2 separate regions of the Homo sapiens genome follow, and region 2 is linked to region 1. A link means that fine-mapping ties the variant in region 1 to the expression of a gene that starts in the linked region. Tissue or cell type: lung. Region 1 holds a variant in brackets; the other region holds the start of a gene. All regions are shown on one strand. Distances are between the middles of the regions.

Region 1 (8,263 bases):
TCCTGGCTAACACGGTGAAACCCCGTCTCTACTTAAAAAATACAAAAAATCAGCTGAGCGTGGTGGTGGGCGCCTGTAGTCCCAGCTACTCGGGAGGCTGAGGCAGGAGGATGGTGTGAACCCGGGAGGCAGAACTTGCAGTGAGCCGAGATCGTGCCACTGCACTCCAGCCTGGGCGACAGAGCGAGACTCCATCTCAAAAAAAAAAAAAAAAAAACCTATTATGGAAATTTTGAAACATACACAAAAGACAGTAAAGTATATAATGAACCCCCCTCCCCATTAACCAACTTTAACAGTTATCAATAATTTGCTATTCTTTTATCGGATTCCTAGCCATTAAAAATATTTTTGACTTGACTGATCAAATCTCAGACATTGCATCAAATTTGCTTTTTAACTTCAGTTGTGTCACTTAAAAAAAACATGAGATCATTGCCATACCTAGTATCATCTAATACCCAGTCCTTGTTCAGTTTTTCCTGTTTATCTAAAAAAGTATATAGTTTTTTGAGACAGTCTCGCTCTGTTGCCAGGCTGGAGTGCAGTGGAACAATCTCGGCTCACTGCAACCTCCGCCTTCTGAGTTCAAGTGATTCTCCTGCCTCCCGAATAGCTGAGACTACAGGTGCGCACCACCATGCCCGGAATTTTTTTTTTTTTTTTTTTTTTTTTAGAGGGAGTCTTGCTTTGTCACCCAGGCTGGAGTGCAGTGGCACGATCTCAGCTCACTGCAACCTCCGCTTCCTGGGTTCAAGCGATTCTCCTGCCTCAGCCTCCCAAGTAGCTGGGATTAGAGGCGCCTGCCACCACGCCTAGCTAAATTTTGTATTTTAGTAGAGACGGGGTTTCACTATGTAGGTCAAGCTGGTCTTGAACTTCTGACCTCAAATTATCCGCCTGCCTCGGCCTCCCAAAGTACAGGGATTACAGGTGTGAGCCACCGCGCCTGGCCCTAATTTTTGTATTTTTAGTAGAGATGGGGTTTCATTCACCATGTTGGCCAGGATGGTCTCGATCTCTTGACCTCATGATCCGCCTGCCTTGGCCTCCCAAAGTGCTGGATTTACAGGCGTGAGCCACTGTGCCCAGCCTAAAAAAGTATTCCTATTATCGATTTATTTGAATCAAAATTAAAACTGTGTGTTTGGTTTTTATATCTCTTTGATTTTTATCTCTCTTAACTGTCCTTTATAACAGTTGCTGCTTCTGTTTTTTTTCCGATATTAACTATAAGGCACTGTAGAATTTCCCATATTCTGGAGTTGGCTGATTATGTCTTTGTGGCATCATTTAATGTGTACCTCTGTCCCTGTATTTCCTGTAAACTGGGATTTAGATTCAGAGACTGGATTAGATTCAGGCTCTTTCTGTTGGTAAGAATGCTGCTTGGTGGGTCCGTGTATTTCCAGTTTCCTCACTTCAGAAGGAACTTACTGTCTGGTTGTAACTATTTTAGTGACTTAAGATTGATCTGTGAGTTAGGTTTTATCAGCCTGTTTTACCCATTATCAAATTCATCATTTTTACTTAATAGCCTTAGCTGCCATTGATAATTGTTGCCAGTATCCATTATTTTGCTGTCTCCAGCTTCTTTTGGAACAATGCAAGTAAGGTATTTTGCTGAGCAAAAATGCCAGAATATGGTAACTTAATTAGATTTCTAAGATCAGAGGATATATGGCATACATGGTCCTTCTCATATATCATTCAACATGTTTATTGTGTATATGCCATGACATGCACTGTGATAGTCACTGAGTTATAGAACCATGAAGACAGACCCAGTGTTTTGCCCTTTGATGTATCAGCTCCATTTTTATAATTTGAAGTCTTCCATCCCCCTGCAACTTGTTGTTCTCAGTGTTTTAGTCATAGTGAACTAATTAATGTCCCACAAACATACTGTACTATCTCTTACCCCTGGTTGCTTATCTAAGTTGTTCCTTCTGCTTGGAATGTCCTCTCCGTTACCTCTGCTGCTCACTCTCACCTTCTTCTGTGCTGCCTCAAAGCTTGGCTAACTCACTCATCCTCCATTTTTAAATTTAGATCACTTTCTTCAGGAAATCCTCATTTTCTTAGTATTCATATCATAACATTTGTCTTACTGTGCTGAAATTGTCTGTTTACTCATCTGCATAACCCATTAGACTGAACTTCTAGAAGCAAAAAATTGTTTTTTGTCTGTCATTTTCTGTCTAGTAGTGAGTTTAGTTTTCTCTTTAGTAGCCTGCCATGTTCCTGTTATATAGTATTATTATCTAATAAGCTATACTTAATATTATTCATTGTATAGATACTCAATTCATAATTGTTATTAAAGCTACAGTTACACTGTGTTGAAAATGGAAGGACTGAATGGAAATATATTAAAATAATAATCATAGTTGTATCGGAGGAGATTATTATGAGTTTTTTTCCCCCATTTTTCAAATTATCTTTAATGAGATTGTATTACTCATTTTCTGGAAATTTTGGGTTATGAAAAACAGGCAAAGGGGATTGGAATATATCTTTTAAAAATACCCTTTTATGTTAAAACATCATTTCTCATTTGGTTATGACCTAATTCTGGATATACCAGTTTCACTTATTTTTGTAAACCCTGAGCCCTTCAGATTCAGCCCTTAGTTGTAACTTGGCTTTTATGAATTCACAGTGAACTAGCTGGTTTGCTTACTTTCTGAGAAGATTCAGCTTCTAAGAATGCAGTTCACACGGGCTTTAGTTTTTTTTGCTGCCTACTCTTTCCTATCCCGTACTTAATTTGAGTTCCTGCTGAGAAGTTTAGTGAATAAGGGCAGTTATTCCCTTTTATTCCCTAGCACACTGTGACTCTGAATGAGAAAAGCCACCAGAATGATCCAGAATATAAACTGGGTACTGCACTTCGAAAAATGTACTTAAAGATACATTTTAAAGGGAAATAGATTTGGGGGGATAGTTAGCCATAAAAAGAATAGGACTTACATTTTTTGAGTACCTACCTATATGCTAGCTCTTGTGCAAGCTACTTTCTTTTGGTTATCCAATTTAAACCTCATAATCTGAGGTTCAAAATGGAACCTTAGTAGTTTTAGGAAATGAGATTTGAGCTTAGACTTGTTTGGCCTCAAAGCCCAAGTTCTCAACCATTATGCCACAATGCCTCAAGCTTGTAATAGGATCTCCTTCCAGGCCAAGATATAATTGATTCTGGGATAGTTGGCATTGTCTTTAGGATAAAATCTTAAGTTCCTTTGCATGATGTACTAAGGTTTTTTGAAATGTATATCCCCACCTACCTGTCCCGCCTTTTCTCTTACCACTTCCTCCATCACTCCTGTCTCTATGTTGCAGATTGTTGTGCAGTTCCCCAAACTTGATGTGCTTTCCTGCTTTCAGGCTTTTGTACATGATACTCCTTCTCTCTGAAATGCCCCCCACCCCCTCCCTATTTTGCCTAAATTTTTCCTTGTTTTCTAGAACTCATATTAGTCAATCATCTTACGAAGACTGTCTCTAACCTTCAAAGACTGGGTTAGCCCTCTCTTCAGAACATTTTGCCTGTTCTACTAGCAATTATTACATATTGTTGTGTATATATATATCTCTTCTTGTATGTCTCTTATGAATAATTTGAGCAAATACCAATGCTTTATTCTTTAAAAAAGTTTGTTTGGTATTCTCTGAATTTAGCATAGTTCTTAGCCAATGGTAGGTACTGAATATATCTTTGTGGAATGAAGGGATATTTCAATGAATGAACTAATGTTTTTAAATGTCTTTTTCCCTCTTGTTGAAATGCAGAGCCAGGCTTTCGAGGACTGACTCCTCCAATTCCTTGGGAACATGCACCGCGTCCCCATTTCCCCCTTGTCCCAGCTTCGTGGCCTTATGGTTTGCATCAAAACTTCATGCATCAGGGAAATGCCCGATTCCAGCCCAACAAACCTTTCTATACTCAAGGTACCACTGCTTACAAATTAGTTAACAGGCTTGGGTGGGTTTTATTCTGGGATAGAGAGCCTTAGTGAAGGCCAGGATCTGGGAGTGAAAATTCATGAATTCAGTAAACATTTACTGAGAAATTATACTGTGTGTCAGATGGTGCTAGGTGCTTGTAAAACAAAATCTCCATTACTTGATGCACACTTTATTAGGAAAGCCAGACATGTTAAATAGAAAAGGAGTTTAGATGAATCAGTTAACATTGCCCTAGCAAATCCAAACAGGATGTGGATTTAAGATTATTACATCACAAGATTTTGACAGTTGAGCTAGATCTTGAAAGAGATGCAGGAATTTTTTTTTTGCCTAGAGATGAGAGAGGAGGAGGAGTATGCTTAGCTGAGGGATTAATATATGCAGTCACTGAGTTTTGCCTGGCATAATGAAAAAGAGTAGAAAATATTAGGGCTAGAGGACGGAGGTATATGGGAAAGATGGTGATAAGGCTAGAGAGGGTAGGCTTAGACCATATTATGGAGTTTGGACTTGGTTTACTGAGCATTGGGGACCTAATTAAAGGTTTTTAGTGGAACGAAGACATAATCATATTTGTTTAGTAAACGTAGGACTTGAATGACCTTAAAATTTATTATGTTCTGCTGGTGCTATTGTAGTACTAATAATGGCTTTGACTGGGTAATGAATATTACAAACAAAGAATTCCTAGAAACTTGGAGCATTTTATCTAACCTACTTGCCTCAGAGGTATTTGTTCTTATAGGCATTGTCTGAGTCTGGCCTTCAGCTCTTTGTTAACTTAGTTCAGAACACTTGGGTCAGAGTCAGTATAGTTAAACTAGGAGTTCAAGAAGTTAAAACAGGCACTCAGGAAATGCTGATTGAATGAAATGATAACTTAAAGGGGAAGTGCCTGGTATGGTCTCAGGCTTGTTATATTTAAGCCTTCTTAAACCACCCATATACTACTGGGGCATCCCTGTATTGTAGAGTGGCAGAGCCTTGACTGTGGTTGAGCTCTTCTCTTGAGCAAAGAACTGGGGCTGAAGGAAGTTACTATTAGTCATAAGCCCTTTTAGGAGGGGAGAGTCTGCAACTCTTTTCTAGTGGGTTTTTTCCCTTTGATTCC[T/G]CCTCTCCATCTTTCGTGTCCTCTCCTTTTTTCACATACAGGTATTTCCTTCCCTTCTTCATTTTTCTCCCCACCCTCTCAAATGTTTTGCAGCATGCTTTATCACCTCCTATTATATAAATAGAAAAAAAGAAAGCTAACTACAAGTTAATTCTAAGGTGTTGTCAGATAAACAGGCACAAGCCTTTCAGTTTCCTGTCTGTGTTGTATCCAACAGACAGATGTGCCACCCGTCGGTGTAGAGAGCGTTGTCCCCACCCACCAAGAGGAAACGTGTCGGAGTAATGCGAGTCCATTTTCTTTCAGCTGGTCTACCGATGCACAGCAACCAGCCAATCCTGCTGTCTCAAGGGTATCCGTACCTCAATGTCAGTTACATTCAGCAGAAAAAGTGACATTTAATGGAAAGCAAAACAAATCAGGTCCTGATTTAAAATTTTAACACGTTTAGATAGCTTATTTAAATTCTAAGACTGTTTTTACAGACTGTATTATTTGTATATAAATATGAACTATAGTTTTTACTAGTATCACCAAATTGAGTGATACAAATTTCATCTATTTTATTACCCTATTTTTAAGGGAATTTTATGTTTTGTTTAACCTTGATGAATTGTATAAAGAGAGAATTTAAAAAATTACATTCTTTATTTTCTATTAGCTGTATTCATACTTTGGTTGCTTCAGACTTTATATATTGTTCTTAAAAGTTAGGAAAGAATTTCATGTGTTTTAAATTGTCACTTCTATTCTTTACAGAACCTTGTAGTGCCAAAAACTTTTTAAAAGGTAAAAAAATAAAATAAAATTACAACATGAAGATTCAGATTTTTTTTCTTTTCCATACTTGTATATTGAACATTCAAACTTGAATGGAAAGTTGATTTTGTCTGTATTTGAAGTACTTCTATTTTAAGTTAATAAATCTTTTTGACAAGAGTTAAATTTGGTTAATCTGTTGTATAGATGATGGAAATATTACGTAACAAGATTTCTTTTAATTTCAGTGAATAGAGCATTCTAAATCACAGATTTTAGTTTTAGAGATTCAAGTAACATTTCATATCCTTTATTTGGTTGGATGTTCACAACACCCATATGAGGTTGATAGAAGCGGAAGCCATTTCCATTTTATCTTTGAAAATAAAAACTGAAATGCAAAGCAGTCAGTAAATTCCAAAAAGCAAACAATGCTGGAGTCTGAATTGAAAAGTATTTGGAAAGAGAATTTTAAAACACTGAGACTAATATTGGCAATTAGAGTGGAGGGAAGATTACTTTTTTTTTTTTTTTTTTTTGAGATAGAGTCTGTCTGTCACCCAGGCTGCAGTGCTGTAGTATGATCTCGGCTCACTGCAACCTCTGTCTTCTGGGTTTGAGCGATTCTCCTGCCTCAGCCTCCCGAGTAGCTGGGATTACAGGCATGCACCACCACACTTGGCCAATTTTTGTATTTTTAGTAGTGGCGGGGTTTCATCATGTTGGTCAGGCTGGTCTCGAATTCCTGACCTCAGGTGATCCACCTGCCTTGGCCTCCCAAAGTGCTGGGATTACAGGCGTTGAGCCACTGCACCCAGCCCAGACTGTATTCATTTTGAGTCCTATACTTCCACCTGGAAAGCACACTTGCCAAGATGATAATTATTTACCAGTAATACTTGGAATTAATTATTATTGGGTATTGGAATTCAGACTCGAGTTGTTGGTGGCATAATGTTTTAGCTGTTTTAGCAGTGAGGTGAGGTAATTTTCTCTAACCCCTTAATTAGTCCGTCCAGTTGCCTGGGATTTTAGGCTAAATGATGCTATATATCTATTTGGAAAGGTGCAGAATAAGTAGATAAAAATGTAAGGACAGTGGGTTATCTTTGCTGCGCTTCCTCTGATATACATTACTTAAATAGGAGACTGCTTGGGCCCTTGCCATATTTTGCAACATGGAAGATATTTGAAACCTATTGCAGGAGGTTGAGGGTATTCATGCTGTATTTACAGCCCTGAGTTAAATATATTTACTATTTTTTTTACCTAACCTGAGTTAGGTATATTTACTATTTTTTCTTATTAAAGCGTCAGCATCTTTCAGAATCCTATTAAGTGGTGGACTTAAATCATTTATTAACAAGATACCTGACCCAACTATGCATTCATGTTAAAATGACTTGGAGCATTCAAGATTTAAATTAACATTCAATACTTCATGTCCTTCCACATCTTGGAGAACAGGTAATGACGTATACAGGGGTGTTTATTATTCTCTTTACTTTTGTACATACAGTAGGCCCTCCATATCCATGGGTTTTGCATCTATGGATTCAACCAACCACGGATTGCAGATATTAAAAAAAACTGTGTCTGTACTGAACTTGTACAGTTTGTTATTATTCCCTAAACAATACAGTATAACAACTTTTCCCACAGAATTTCCATTGTATGAGGCATTATATGTAATCTAGAAATGATTTAAAGTATAAAGGAGGATGTGCATAGGTTATATGCAAAGACTACACTATTTTATATCAGGGACCTGAGCATCCTTGGATTTTGGTATATCTGCGGGAGGTCCTGGAACCAACCCCCCACCAGATACCAAGGGGAGGATTGTATTTGAAATATTCATTAAAAATAAAACAACTTCCAATAACAGAATGCCCCAACCCCTCAGCCTTTCTTCCTTAAGGAAGGCAGTATAAAATACCACTTGGCAAAACCTATTAACTGGCAACCTAGTAACCAACAGCCTAGGTTTTACTTATATGATAGTGTTATAGATACTAGTTTTCAGCATCTCATTTGCCCCTCCTTCAGTAACTGCCAGTGTTCAATAATTGGCAAAACTGTTCTGTTGAAAAACATATAGTTTAAAATTGATATAGTAGAAACTCAGATTTTAAGTCTGCAAAGTAGATTATGAGTTCAGATTCATTGTAGAGCAGTTAAGTAGAAAATTATCAATCTTATACAGGGAGAACACACACATTTAAGACCAAATTGTTTTGAAATGTTCTGTTTAATGACATGGAGATTAGTATTTTCCCTTGACATTAGGGTTATTAAAAATATAAATATGTACTGTATATTTGTTTATATCCCCTACAGATGGACATTTTTGCTGTTTCCAGTTATTCTTATATATACATATTATATATGTAATGTGTAAAATGATGATGGGATAAAGCTATT
Region 2 (8,000 bases), 130 kb before region 1:
TCCTGCCCTAGTTTATCTGGTTCACACCCTTTTCTTTCTTTTTACATTTAAGAGTCAGGGTCTCACTCTGTCACCCAGCCTGGAGTGCAGAGGCACATTCATAACTCACTGAAGCCTCCACCCCCGGGCTCAAGTGATTCTCCCAACTCGGTCTCTCAAGTAGCTAGGACTACAAACATGCACCACCATTCCTGGTTAAATTTTTAATTTAATTTAATTAATTTATTTTTTGAGACAGAGTCTCCCTCTGTCATCCAGGCTGGAGGGCAGTGGCATGATCTTGGACCACTGCAACCTCCACCTCCCAGGTTCAAGTGATTCTCCTGTCTCAGCCTCCTGAGTAGCTGGGACTACAGTCGTGTGCTATGCCCAGCTAACTTCTGTATTTTTTAGTAGAGATGGAATTTTAACCATGTTTGCCAGGCTGGTCTCGAACTCCTGATTGCCAAGTGATCCAACTGCTTTGGCCTCCCAAAGTGCTGTGATTACAGGTGTGAGCCATGGTGCCCAGCCAAATTTTATTTTTTTGAAGATGGGGTCTCACCATGTTGCCCAGGCTGGTCTCAAGCTCCTGGCCTTGATCCTCTTGCCTCAGCCTCCCAAATTGCTGGGATTACAGGTGTGAGCCATCATGCCTGGCTCCCTCATTTTTATGTATAAAGAAGGCTGATGTTATTCCTAAGGTCAGGATTACCAACAAATATGTATCACAGAAGGAAAAGTCCAGCTCTGTTGAGGAAGTACTTCTTTTTCCTGGAACAGGCAGATTTGGTAAGGAATGAGCTCTCTATAGCTATGAATGTACAAACAGAAGTCAGACGAACACCTGCTGTATAAGGCAAGTCTGAACATCTCTCTCCTTGTTTACAGATGTTCCATGATTGCCCATTAACTTCAGAATAAAAACTTGCTTTTTTAACAATGATGCGGTCCTAGTCTAACTTTATAGCATCATCTTCTGCCATGTATATATGTTCTTGATATCTCTAACTTTATGAACGCTAATGTCCTTTTAAATTCTAAAATCTTATTCACTTAAAAAAATGCCACCTTAAGAAAAACTGACTGTTTCTAATGTTTCAATGAAGTAAGCTGCAGGGTGTGGCTGTAGTTTAAAATTCCACGCATAGAATCCTCAGGACAGATGAAATGGAATCAACAGGTAGAAAGTACACACATGTGCTAGTGTGAGTCTAAGGGCACATGAAATCCAAATGGGGCAGATGAGAAGAAACTAAATTTTAAGAAGAAAGGGAATTCATTTGTGTGGAACATTTACTATGAAATAGGCATTTTTACACATTTTCATCTCATTGACTTTTAAGAATGCAAACAGACAAAGAGAAGTAAATCCTTTACACTATCTTGAGGTGAGCACACACCTCAAGAGCTTTGGTATTGTCATGATCTTTGCAAGAATCACAAAAATTTTAGACACTGACCATATCTTATGCTTTATAGACAATTTAGAGTGTCAACAAGCAATTTCTGAGTGCTTTCTATATGTGTCAGGATTATGCTGGGTGCTGAAAATACAAAGGTAAAGGAGACTTGGTTAGGACCACATCATGGGGGTGATGCACTGTTTTTCACTAGAGATCATTATCACCCAGGGCCTATAGTCTCTCTCCTTGGAGAAATCAAGTACACAGGAAAAAAAAAAATGGGGCTCAGAGAAACAGCTTAGCAGGTCTGATTGTATTTATCTCTGCTTACAAGTGATCAGTGATTCCCCAATAACTATAATATAAAGCCTGCTTTTTTTCCAGTGGCATACAGGGCCCTTTATGATCAAACAGCAAAACTTGGTTTGAACAGACTTAGGCACCTTTCTTTTTTCTTGAAATGGAGTCCTGTTCTGTCACCCAGACTGGAGTGCAGAGGCATGATCTCGGCTCACTGCAACCTCTGCCTCCCGGGTTCAAGCGATTCTCCTGCCTCAACCTCCTGAGTAGCTGGGATTACAGGCACCCACCACCATGCCTGGCTAATTTTTGTATTTTTAGTAGAGATGGGGTTTCACCATGTTGCCCAGGCTGGTCTTGAACTCCTGACCTCAAGTGATCTGCCCACCTCGGCCTCCCAAAGTGCTGGGACTAGGCACCTTTCTTGTTATAATTTTACTTACCAAGTCACCTTTTCATTCAATATTATTAGTTTTTTACTAAGTTTTCTTATTCACCTAGGAAGACAACAGAATATGAATATTGATCCACTGAGTAATTATATTCCTCATGAGATACAATGAAATAAGATTTTTACTGCAAGTTATTTTCACCTGGGTTTGGATGAAACTAAGTTTTCAGAACTTCCAGACTGGAGGCTTAACCACAATCATGAGATTTCCCTTGAAAGTTTAAGTCCTCAGAGGATTTTTACATAGAAATCAGACATTTACCATTTTATATCTCAAAAACCTGTGGTTCAATGGGAAGAATACAGGGCTGGTATTCTAGTCCAGCCTGTGACTTACTGTATGACCCTGGGCATGAATTAAACCTTATACTCCATAAATTTCCTTATTCTTTGTGTCAGAACCATACTTGCTCTAGCTGTGATGATAAAATTATAGTTGTCAAAATTTTCAACTCGACAACTATGTAGGTATCAGAAGGAATACCTTGTAAGTATCTGTGCTGAAGTGTACAATCTATTGGGGTCACGGAATTCAGAGAATAGAGGGATCACATTCAGTGGAGTGCAGAGGAGGGGTGGTAATCAGGAAGATTTAATAAAGAAGGTAGAGGTTGAGCTGGGTCTTGGGGAATAAGCAAGGTAGTAGAAGAGAGTATCTGGAGGGGATAAGGGCAGAGAGGCACTGAAATTTTCAGTCTGGCCCCAGTTTTCTTTTCCAGATTCATTATCTTCTGCACACTCCAGAGTCAATGCTGCCCTCTGAATCACAGACATGTGTCTGGCACACAGCAGACAGATCTTCAAGGTCCAGCTTTTAGTTCTTCCACGGAAGTCTCACCAAAGTGGAATTTATCACACTCTCCTCTGGATTTGCCCAGCCCTTTGTTAATAAGACCTGTTGCTTTTATTGTAGCTCACCTGCTTGCTCAATGGGGAACTTTTTGGAGACAGGAAGCAATGATTTGTCTTTGTTTCCCTAGGCACCTAACAACGCTTTGCTCTTAAGTAATTAGGAAATGTTTACTCAATTGAACTTGTTCTAAGGACACTGCTATCACTGAATTGAAGGGCATGTCGGTATCTTCTTAGTGTCTCTATAGGCTTTAGGCTTTCAGCCGGGTGAAGTAGGGATTTTTTCTTTGTTTCCAGGCTAGTCAAGCGAAGCAGGGATACAGATTAAGAATTTGCAGATGAGGAAACTCAAGAGGGTACATTTGCTCAAAGGCATCATGTTGATAAACGCCAAAACCAGGTAGGGCTCTTTTGACTTGAAATCCAGTCCTCTATCCATTATACCTGGGCCTTGTAGCATCAGCCAGATTGGGGTAAAATGCACTAACTCTGAACCCTAGTTTTTTCATCCGTAAATGAGAGCAACAGTACGTAACTCACAGGGCTATCGTGAAGTGGAGCGTCCCTCTGTGACCTCTAACCAGTCCCAGCCTGAGTCACATTATAAGAAAATTTATAAGGCACTATCTTGTAAATACTTAAGATTTAACATCTTCCCTTCACCTCTACGTCCACTCTTTTCATACCTTTTTCCTGCCTAGCATGTGTCAAACTCAAAGGACTGGGCACAGAGCACAGAGGTTGTGTGCTTTGTCCAGCTTTGAGGTCAGAGATTGGCTAAATAATCTCTGAGGCTGGGGTCTTAAAAAAAAACAACAAAAAACAAAACTAACAAAACCTTAAGTCCGTTCCGCCCGTGACTTTAAATAATTATGTAGAGGAATGTAATACGTTAAAAGCAAGGGGATGAGGGGGCCCATTGATGGTAGATGGTTTTATGCCCGCCTGCAGCTAAAGAAATGATTTCTAAAACCTCTTTTGGGGGTGGGAGATGGAGTGCTCCAGAGATTTCTCTTCGAGCTCCTTCATTCCTGAACTGCCTGCCTTTTCAAAGGAAAAAAGGTCCAGCTGCGGTGGGCTGGAGGCCGTGGTGAGTGGGTGGGGGTCGACCCTGGCGGCTTCCTCTGCCCCGCTCCCTACCGTTGCTCCGAAGCCCGCTTGGGCTTCCGAGGGTCCGCCGAGGCTCGGGCCACGCCCAGTCCGAGTGCCAGGCCAGAGGGTACCCATTCCAGGCCGGCCTTCCTCCCCAGGGGGAGCAGCCTTGGGAGCGAGGCGCCGAGGCGGCCCTCGGGCTCGGCTTCCAGCTCGGGGGCCTCGGCAGAGACTAGGAACCAGACTGGGGCAGCACTGGGGCGCCCGCCACCCCCACCCACTCCGGCAAGCGGGCGAATCAGCGCGGCTAACCCGCGGCGCCCAGGCGGGCTGCGGGACCTCGCGACCTCCGCTCGGCGGCCCCGCCCCTGCCCGCGAGCCCCGGGTGGCTCCCTCCTCCCCTCTGCCAGCGGCCCGCCCCCTCCTCGCGAGCTAACGAGTGTCTCTCGCGCGCTCCCTTCCCTCCGCGTGGGTGTGAGTGCGCGATCCTCCTACCTCGGCCTTCTCCCCATTGTTTCTTCGCGGCCACCACGAGACCCCTCCCCCCAGTGCTGTTTCCCCCCTCCCCCGCCCCGGTGTAAACGGTGCCTGTGGGGCCCCCCGAACGAAGGGAGGGGGCACCCCTGAACCCTTCCCTCTGCGCGTAGCTCCTCCTCTCCCGGGCCAGGACCCCATTACAGGCTCTGTCCTCTCCCCTCCCCCTCTCCCCCGGCAACCGCTCTCCCTCGCCCCCTCCCCTCAGCGGGTCCTCCTCTTTCTCTCCCTCTCCCTCTCCCTCCTCCTCCCCCTCCCCATCCCTTCCCCCCCACAATGCAGTTCGCGGCGCGGCGGACATGGCGGTGGAGTCCTGAGCTAGTCGTGTCCCGGCCTCCAGCGGCGGCAGCGGCGACGGCGGCGGCAGCAGGAGGCGGAGGGAGAGCAGGAGCCACTGAGATGAGGAGGCGTCGCGCGCGCCTGTAGCTCGCGGGCCTCGCAGGTACGAGGTTCCGGCCGCGGGGCAGCGTCGGGTACCGAGGGGGTGTGCTCGGGAAGGCCGGGCGGCCCCCGGTTCGCCCTCCCCAGGTGCCGCGCTTCGCAGGTGTCGGGGGCCTGGCCTGAGAGCGTCTCAGCCGCCCCCTGGGGGCCTGACACTTCTTTCTTTCCTGGAACGGGCTTCGGGTGTCCCAGGGGAAGGCTGAGATAAGGGAGGTGGGGACGGCGGCCTGGGCGGCCTGAGGAGGGCATTGGGGCGCTTTGGGGACGAACTCCACACTGTGGCTGGGGCTCCCGGTCCCGGACCGAAACCTGTTGTAGACCAGCGGGGCGGATTTTGAGTTAACGGGATTGGTTTGAACATTTCTGTTGGGTCCAGTTACGATTCCCTGTCATGTGTACCTTTTTCTTTCACCCTTGCTTAGACATAGGTGACTACATAATGTATATAAATGTATACACGCATATAATACATACTGAATGTTTCCCCGGGCTCGTCCTTGTAGGGAGAAGGCAGAGGTGTCTGTGTGGATTTTGTTTCTTGCTCGCCCGCCTTCTCTCTCCCCCGCCCCCCAGTCGAAAGGTGGTAATGCGCGGTTTTGACGTGGGTAACTGAGATTCGTATTTGTAAACAGATAGCGCTCTCCTAGTGTGTTGCACGCCTCTGCGAAGGGTTTCAGACTCCTGTTGGTATCTGGATTGCGAAAGAATGAGATGTTTAGACCTGAAAGAAGCACATCAGCGGGATTTCTAGTCGTACTTGAATGGGATGAATTACTGTTGTATTAACAACGTTGATTACACATTTTCTTTTCAGAAGATTTCGAAGTCTTAGATGAATTTTGCGTGAGATCTTAGATACCGTATATCTGCTTCTTCATTTTGATAGAAGTAGTAGTTCCTTACACATTTGACCTGCCCTATCGTGATCTTAAATTGTGTCCAGAAATGCAATTCGAATTGTGTATTGTTGGCATGCATTTAGTAATTAGCCCGAGTGGATCAGATGGCCTTTTATTTCCAAAGATTTTTTCCCTCCAGTCTTACAGCAGCGAAATGTTTGTAGCACTTGATGAAACAGAACATATCCTGTTTCTGTTTTTAAAGTAATGAGAACTGTTAGCTAATAAAATTGGATAATCCCAGCCAGATATGATAATTCAGAGAATACCACCGAGAGGTGTTGAATTGTGGGATGGTTTAAAAAGAAAAGCCGACTTTGTGTGTGTGTGTGTATGTGTGTGTGTGCGCGCGCGAGCGCGCTGAAATTTTCTTTAGGCTTAGAACTCATGTATGTCACTACACTGCATCGTAGTACTGATTAGTCACAACTGGTAAAATGAAATATTGATTCTCTTAAAAAGCTGTGCTTAAGATAACTCATTAGTGTCTAGTGTGCTATGTTGCTTTTATAAACAAATTTTTAAAGATTGCTTCTTAGAAACCATATACTTTGGGGAAGATAAGAATTTTAAGTCGTTTTATGCTTTAAAAATATTTATATTTAATATAAACAAAAGAAACTTACTTTTAAAACTCTTAGATAAATTTTTCTGCTGCTTGCAGTTTTTCACTTGGCTAGTGTGGAAAATGAAAAATGAAGTTTTCTTAAAATAATTCAGAAATGGAAGTGAAAGTTAATGACATTTGATGTTTTAAATCCAGCAAACATTTAAATACAGAAAAGAAATTTAAAGTATTTTCATTGTCATAGGCCAAGTTGTTAGTACAGATAAATTAACAAATATTGTCATGCATATAAGTTCAAGTTTATAAATTCTAAGTGACACCTAAAATTACATTTATTTTTAGTTGCTGGAGCTAGAACAGTACAGTGTCTACATTTTAATTTTAGACCTTTTAGAATCAAAATGTATAATTATAAATTTCTCTGATTAACAAAGAGCTGTTTAAAGAGAATTTTTATTAGCTCTCAGCAGATTCATTTTAGAGTAAGTAATTAGAATTCTTTTTTATCTCAAAGTTAATCTTGACATAAAAATAAGTACCATTAATTATGTTGTGTTCTCTACAGAATGTCAAATCAGGATCTGTTGATCAAGAAAGGTGTTTGAATTTATTCACTGTTAAAGTTTCTAGTTTCAGAGAAACAAAATAACCAACACTTACCTGTAGGGCCTGGCCAGGTGGCTCACTCACGCCTGTAATCTCAGCACTTTGGGAAGTGGAGGCGAGAGGATTGCTTGAGCGTAGGAGTTTGATATCAGTCTGAGCAGCATAGTGAGACTTTGTCACTGCCAAAAAATAAAAGAAATTAGCTGGGCGTGGTGGTGTGCGTCTGTAGTCCCAGAAGCTGAGGTAGGAGGTTTGCCTGAGCCCAGAGTTCAAGGTTGCAGTGAGGCACAGTTGCGCCACTGTACTCCAGCCTGGGCGACAGAGTAAGACCCTGTCTTAAACAAAAAAAAAAAAAAAAAAAAGCAATACTTACCTGTTAATGTTGATGCCAGAACATTTTGTTTGACAAAATAGAACTCAATGAGTTGTGTTCCTTTTTCAAATAAATTGCAAATACTTGAATTGATTAAAAAATGTTAAATTCAGTTAAAGCCACTGCAGTAGGATAGAAATACGTTCTAAAAAAGAACAATTCCAGAAAGACCTAAAAAAGTCAAAGGAAAGGGACACCATACTTTAAAACAGGATATGTAGACTTTTTGTTATTAATCTTAGAGCAATTAGAGTTGTTTACTGGGTACTAACTGAATTGTTTTAATTCTAGAATCCTAAATAATTACATAATTTGGGGGAAATGTTTAAAAACCATCATTTCTGCAGAGTATTTTTCTTTCCTTTTTTAAATCTTTATTTTATTATGTACAGACTATATTCAAATAAACCACACACTCTGAAAAAGCAGGTTCCGACTTTTCCTCCGGAGTATTTCTTACAGGCCCAAGGAGAAGAAAGGGTATATAAATGCAAAGATT

What was found. PIP is the estimated chance that this variant, and not a neighbour inherited with it, causes the effect.
Region 2: TUT4 starts here. The variant in region 1 is fine-mapped to the expression of TUT4 in lung (TOPMed, PIP 0.94).

What each region holds. Positions count from the first base shown.
Region 1 is chr1:52,421,037-52,429,299 of GRCh38, reverse strand. It overlaps TUT4 (terminal uridylyl transferase 4), which reads left to right. Exons shown (of 30, transcript NM_001009881.3): 29 at 3,793-3,951; 30 at 5,298-6,025. The coding sequence ends at 5,365. Among named protein-coding and RNA genes, the nearest start is that of PRPF38A, 21 kb to the right of the region's middle. RefSeq lists an enhancer at 5,371-5,420. The variant T/G (reference allele first, on the strand shown) is at 5,081.
Region 2 is chr1:52,549,987-52,557,986 of GRCh38, reverse strand. It overlaps TUT4 (terminal uridylyl transferase 4), which reads left to right and starts at 4,895. Exons shown (of 30, transcript NM_001009881.3): 1 at 4,895-5,056. LOC105378723 (a long non-coding RNA gene) reads right to left here. Exons shown (of 4, transcript XR_007066083.1): 2 at 7,183-7,307; 3 at 6,581-6,630; 4 at 5,150-5,746. RefSeq lists silencers at 4,193-4,592, 4,603-4,712, 4,753-4,882, 4,953-5,282.